Homo sapiens: one gene and its partner. The protein of the gene in region 2 interacts with the protein of the main gene of each other region in a pairwise test. Each region holds a gene or a part of one and is shown on either strand. Other genes may lie near its edges.

Region 1 (3,818 bases), on a different chromosome or scaffold from region 2:
GAAACCCTGTCTCTACTAACAATATTTTAAAAATTAGCTGGGCGTGGTGGTGGACACCTGGAATCCCAGCTACTCAGGAGCCTGAGGCAAGAGAATCGCTTGAACCTGGGAGGCGGAGGCTGCAGTGAGCCGACATCGTGCCATTGCACTCCAGCCTAGGAGACAAGAGGGAAACTCCCATCTCAAAAAAAAAAAAATACAAATACAAATATTAGCCGGGCATGGTGGTGTGCTCCTGTAATCCCAGCTACTCAGGAGGCTGAGGCAGAAGAATCACTTGAACCTGGGAGGCGGAGCTTGCAGTGAGCCGAGATCGCGCCACTGCACTCCAGCCTGGGGGACAGAGCAAGACTCCGTCTCAAAATAATAATAATAATAATAATAATAATAATAATAATTAAAAATTTAAAAATGTAAAAAAAGAAACCTGCATCCTACCCATCCGACCGGAAAGGGGAGGAGTTGACTAAAAGTGGGGTATACCAGGGAGAAAATGAGAAGCCAGCGGTCCCTAAATTCCAAATCAGAACCAGCCTTGAATACCAAGGGAGCGAGGCTTGAAGCCCCTCCCTCCCCTCCCAGAACTCAGGGAAGTCTGCAAATGAGACGGAGGAAGTAATGTCTCTGGGTCCCGGAGAACTCACAGTACAGAATCTCATAGTCCCCGGAGTTGGTGACAAAGCAGCTGCTGTCCTGGGCCCAATCCAGGTGGGTGATAAAACTGGAATGGCCCTGCGGGGGAGGGAAGGGATGGTGTTAGAGCTGCAGAGGGCGGAACCAAGGAGAGGGGGACAGGATTAAATCAGGAAAGTGGAAGTCAAATACAGAGGTAGGGCGAGAACACAAGGGGACTAAAGGAAGGATACACAGGCCTTTGGAGTATGGGGGCAGGGCCAGAATACTGTGGGCGGGGCCAGACTGTGATGGGCAGGGCTAGACAAAAAGCACTTAGAACACAATGGGAGTTTAGAACAGGTGGGCAGGGCTAGACACGGAGGAGCTGGCTTTGAATGTTGAGGGGCGGGGCTACACAGAGGGGCGGTCTCGGAACGTGAGGGGCGGTCTCGGAACGTGAGGGGCGGGGCTACACAGATGGGCTTAGCACGTGGGGGCGGGGCTACACAAAGGGGCGGGCTTAGAACACACGAGGTGGTGAATGTGTGGACGTGGCCAAGACTCCTTGCTCTGATCAGGGCAGAATCAGTTGAGTGTTGAAGCTGCGCTCCCTTGAGGTAGAAAATTGGTTAATTTTGCACCCCCTGGGCGGGGTGGCGGCGCGGGCTGGGGGCCACTGCCCACTCACCGAGCACTTGCCCAGGCGGCTGACCTTGCGGCCGCCCTGGTCCACCGTGTACACGTACACCAAGTTGTCGTGGGAGCCCACGGCCAGGTACGCCCCGTCTGGGGGAGGGGGAGGGGGGCTATGAGGAGGCACCCAGGCTCCATCCCCTCCTCGCCCAGACTCAGCCCCCTCAACAGTCCCCAGCTCCATCCCCACTGCATCCCTCCTAGGCCTCGCTTCGCAGGCTCCACCCCTCCCCCTGCCAAGAGCTCTGAGCCTCTGTCCCCTGGCCCTGCCGCTTGGGTGTCCCAGGCCTGCCGCTTACCTGGGGAGAAGCTGACCACTGAGATCTGTTCATTGCCGTCTGTGTGGATAGCCACCAGGTCATGGGTCTCCGTGTCCAGCAGCAGCCATCTTGAAGGAGAGGGCGTGGTGGGGGGAGGAGGGGTGAGCTGATCTGACAGAGAGAGGCCGCAATCTGTGGGGTCTAAGGGAGGGATCAGAGGGACCCCAGAAGTGACCTGGGCTGGGCACGGTGGCTCAGGCCTATAATCCCAGCACGCTGGGAGGCCGAGGCGGGTGGATCACTTGAGGTCAAGAGTTCGAAATCAGCCTGGTCAACATAGCAAAACCCCGTCTCTACTAAAAATACAAAAATTAGCCAGGCGTGGTGGCACGTGCCTGTAATCCCAGCTACTTAGGAGGCTGAGGCACGAGAATTGCTTGAACCCGGGAGGCAGAGGTTGCAGTGAGCTGAGATCGCGCCACCGGACTCCAGTCTGGGCGACAGAGCAAGACTCTGTCCCCCCAAAAAACAAAACAAAACAAGGCCAGGTACAGTGGCGGTGGCTCACGCCTGTAATCCTAGCACTTTGAGAGGCTGAGGCAGGTGAATCACTTGAGGTCAGGAGTTCGAGACCAGCCTGGCCAACATGGTGAAACCCCGTCTCTACTAAAAATAAAAAAAAATTAGCCAGGCATAGTGGTGGGCGCCTGTAATCCCAGCTACTCGGGAGGCTGAGGCAGGCAAATCGCTTGAACCTGGGAGGCAGAGGCTGCAGTGAGCCAGAGGAATATTGAGGGATCAGGGCTCGGTAAATAGTGGGATTTGGGAAAGTAGGAAAGAGGGAAGAAGGGCCAGTTCCCCAGGGAGCAGAGAAGGCCTCCCGAAATGCTCTCCTCAGCTTTACCTGCCAGTCACTGTACCCACAGCCAGGACAGAGCCACTGGGGTGGAAGCCGGCTGAGCGGGCAGGGTCCTGAGAAGGGAGAGAGAAGAGGCAGGGCTCAGAGCTGGGGTCCCATGTCCATCTGGACATTCTCTTGCCTCAGGGCCAAGTCTAATCTTTGCATGAGGGCTCTCCCCTCCCTCTGCTGCCCTTTGGGACACCCCCACCCCAGACACCATGGCAGCCATTCCTCTTTACATTTCTGTAGCATGTTAACCTGAACAGAAACCATTCCTCCTGTCACTCCTGTCCCGGGATCCCTCCTTACTCCTCTTCTAAATTCCCACAGCTTTATTCATCCAAGACGACTTCTTTAGATAATTTCCTAGATGTGGGAATGCTGGGACAAAGGGCATCTAGAATTTTAAGACTTTATTTTTGTTTTTTATTTTTTAAATTTTTATTTATTTTTTTGAGATGGAGTTTCACTCTGTTGCCCAGGCTGGAGTGCAGTGGCACGGTCTCAGCTCACTACAACCTCCGCCTCCTGGGTTCAAGCGATTCTCCTGGCTCAGCCTCCCAAGTAGCTGACATTACAGGCGCCCACCACCACGCCCGGCTAATTTTTGTTTTTTTTTTTTCATTTTTTGTAAAGATGGGGTTTTGCCATGTTGCCCAGGCTGGTCTCAAACTCCTGGATTCACACAATCTACCTGCCTCAGCCTCCCAAGTGCTGGGATTACAGGTGTCAGCCACCACACCCAGCTGAAATTTTTATTCTGTTTACATTTTAATTAATTGTGAATAGCCATGTGTGGCCAGTGGTTACCCTATGGGACAGTGTAGCTCTACACTTGACTGTTGCAGCGGTCACACCTTCCTTGAACTCAGCGGCTCCTGACTCCCCCCTCCTCATGGCGGCACCCCTGACAGGATGGTTCGGTGTCGTCCTGGGCTCCCTTCCAGTCAAGAACCTACTCCTCCAACCCTTCTGAGAGAGCTTCTAAGCACCCAGTTCCCTAGATGAAACCCCCACCCTGCTTAAAAAGACCTTGTTTGGGCCAGGCTTGGTGGCTGGCATCTGTAATCCCAGCACTTTGAGAGGCCGAGGCGGGCGGATCACGAGGTCAGGAGTTCGAGACCAGCCTGACCAACATGGTGAAACCCTGTCTCTATTAAAGATACATAAATTAGCTGGACATGGTGGTGTGCACCTGTAATCCCAGCTACTCGGGAGGCTGAGGCAGAAGAATCACTTGAACCCGGGAGGCGGAGGTTGCAGTGAGCCGAGATCGTGCCATTGCCCTCCAGCCTGGGTGACAGAGCGAGACTCCACCTCGAAGAAAAAAAAAAAAAGACCTTGTTTGG
Region 2 (3,165 bases):
AGACACATGGTAATCAAAATCTATAGCCTTAATTAAATGATGACTTTCAGGAAATTATCATGCAAAATGGAAGTGTTAGGAAGCCGATAATAGACACACTCTCCTAAAAATGATCTCACCACATCACACCTAACCCTTCTCACCACCTTGCAGTTCACATTCCATGGGAAAAAGCTCCTCATACTTAAGAGTGTTTTACTTTCCTTTTCCCAAGTCATGGCGATTTTGAATATTCACCCTTTGCGGATATCAACACATTTCTAAAGTATACTTATCTTGATTAAAGACTGCTGAGGTCATTAAAACACTAACAAATATTTAAGATGCATTGAACATTTTGTTTTAGAATTGGCTTTTCAATCATTTCATCACAAGCAATGCTTTCCTGCCGTTTACTTACTCCTACATCTACTATCTTCTTTTGTATTGTGCTTTGTGTTTTACAGAACATTTGCTCTTTATAAAGCATCTATTTCTAGCCTAGGAAAATATCAAATGGAAAGGGGATGGGAATACCTTTGATATGTCCATTCAGCAGAACTATGTGCTGCCGGGTACAGTTGCGTGAACATATACACATCTCCACTTCCTGTGAGATAAAATTTTAAGAAGAAAATTTTCTTTAGGAATCAGTCCTCCCCCAGGCCTTATTTACAATGTCTGGCTTACTGTCAACCTGTGGGTCTGTCCACCAACCCTACAGGACCTCATATCCCTCCCTTCTCAAATGCCTACCTCTTCCCTTCCCTTCCCTTCCCCCGCCACCATCAGAAAACAGGCAGAGATATACACAGCCATCAGCTTCTCAAACTTTATTTTCATTGCCCAAGGTTGAGAGATGTAGCTTCTTGCTACTTTGCAGGTATTTCAACCATTATTTCCATGAATTCCTCCTCCTCCATTTGGAGGGGGTTGATTCTGTTCTCTCGGGCGTGGTCATTCAGCAGTTCCTCTGGAGATGTTCTTTTAAAGTTCCTCCTGTAGCGAACCACTAGTATGGTCGAGGACTCAGATGTTTTCATTTTTTTAGGAGCAGGTTGCGGGTCTGAGTCCCCAGTTGGGGTCTCCGGCATCTGTTAAGAAAGCAGGGAGAGGCCAGGAGGACATTATTTTGGGTGAACAGGATAGAGACTGGATAGCAAGGGGACTTCATGAGAAGAAGGAATGCGGGTTGAGGAAGGGGTTTGATCCAGAGAAGAAGAAGGTTGAAGCACAGAGTAGGGATCTATGGGGAAGAAGAAGAGGAGCGTGGGTAGGGTCACCTGTGAGTCCAAACTGCACCATTTTGTCAGTTCTTTGCTATTTTGCAGACCTTGGTCAAAGTGAAACATCCCATGGGGGTTCAGGCCGTGAGAAACATCCTGCCTAACCACCTGTCCGCAAGGCGGACAAAGGCCCAACTGAAGAAACATCCCTATCATATCTTGCTTGGCAGCGTTCTAAGGAACACCACAATGATATTCCACCAGAAAAAGGGCCAAACCACCTGATCATAAGAACATCTTATCAATATCCTGCCGGGCAGCAAGCCATACTGCCCAGGCCCCTCCCACCCCTACCTACAAGCACCCCAGCCTGTAAGCGGCGGTGGGCTCTGGCATTAAGCGGGCCCCCCACTTCCACAATGGTCTGCAATATTCCTGTGTTGTTGTTTGAGCCGCCCCCGCTCTGTGTGTCTTTCTTTCACCCTCGCCTTCACTTCAGAACCTAACAGTCTTACCATCTCGTTGGCCTCGTTGGAATCACAGGGGACGCTCCTCTTCACCCCGCCGGCACTGGATTGTTTGTCCATTGTATATATTGGTTCTTCAATGTCAGTGGCAGGCTTTTGTAGGTTTTGAATCTTCTCAGTGGCCCGGAGCTCTTGCCCTCCCTATGTATACCCTCCTGGTGACAAGGCAAAGCCACACCCTTGAGCTTTGTTTGATCATACAGGCAGTGTCCCAGCCAATGGCAGCCCTAGGGTGGCTTCACATCACAAAGCCCCACTGCTGACCACTCCCTGGGCTTGCGGGCGAGGGGTGACAGGGGTGTAGAGCAAACCAAATGCTGCTGTTGTTTCAGCATCCCCTGAAGATGCATCCCAAACCGATCTGCCGCCGCTCCTCATTTCTCCATGTTTAATGTTCACGGTTCACATGGAAGTCAGAGGATGATTCCTTCAAGCCCTTCCCCACAGCCATTCCTATTAAGTGATTCATTCTTTTGTCTTCCAGCCCTCACCATGACTTAGTATTTTCGATGTCTCACCTCAAATCCCCCACGCTAGTGTGGCTACATTTATTTATTGGCGGAGATGTGAATTATCCCATTTCCCTCCTACAGTTCCTTCACATGCACCTCGAAGACCATTTACTTTTGGGCTACTGCTGAGATGAATGGTAATTCTAAGTTTTTGACTAAAACAGTTATTAGAACAGAGAGTATTCTTGGATTTTTAAGGAAGAAAGTAGCTTGGACACTTAGAAATGTCTTTGTTAAAAAAAAAAAAAAAAGTACACTGTAAAACCGTCACTTGGTGTAGCCTCATAGTAATTCTCCCTTTTTGGAGACCTAGGATTCAGTGTGGGCTCTGCCCAGAGCTCAGAGATCCAGTTAAAAGACAGGTAGTCCCTATCTAAATACAACTGGTCTCCTTATACAATCCTATATTTCTACAATTTTGTGTTTGATTTGGCATCCATCTTCAATCTCCCTCTAACATCACCAGACTCTTTCTCTCGGTGCTTTGAGATGCAAATTTCACTATCTGATTTTTTTTACCTAAGGGTTCCTTTAATATGCACATTTAGGGCTATCTAGCTGACAATTGCCTAGGGCAATAAAATAGGTTATGAAGAAATTGTAAATCTAAAATACGAGGAAAAAATAAAGGCCTTAGGAATTTATAAGATCTACTTCTATCTACATGTCTAATACATCTATGTATTTATGTGTCATGGATATGACATTTCACTACTTAAAATGTAGAAAAAAGCTCTAATTAATTGGCTTAACAAAGGCACTTAAATCTAATGCTTTTCGGAAAAATAGACTTTAAGCCAAATGCTTTTTCAAGTTCATGTGACTTAAGCAAATCTTCAATAAACAAGCTGGTTTTAAAAATTTTAGTGAAATTGAATTAGAAATGGCTTTGGAATTCTCAACATACATTATTTATCTCTG

Evidence for each region.
Region 1: the proteins of SPANXA1 (region 2) and EML2 interact in a two-hybrid assay, tested with the Homo sapiens proteins (one large-scale study listed by BioGRID).

The regions. Positions count from the first base shown.
Region 1 is NC_000019.10:45,615,158-45,618,975, forward strand, and holds part of EML2 (echinoderm microtubule-associated protein-like 2), read right to left. Parts: intron 2,541-3,818; coding exon 2,473-2,540; intron 1,697-2,472; coding exon 1,608-1,696; intron 1,402-1,607; coding exon 1,304-1,401; intron 733-1,303; coding exon 645-732; intron 1-644. UniProt on the Homo sapiens protein: Tubulin binding protein that inhibits microtubule nucleation and growth, resulting in shorter microtubules.
Region 2 is NC_000023.11:141,582,887-141,586,051, forward strand, and holds SPANXA1 (sperm protein associated with the nucleus on the X chromosome A), read right to left. Parts: upstream 1,853-3,165; 5' UTR 1,793-1,852; coding exon 1,721-1,792; intron 1,074-1,720; coding exon 852-1,073; 3' UTR 788-851; downstream 1-787.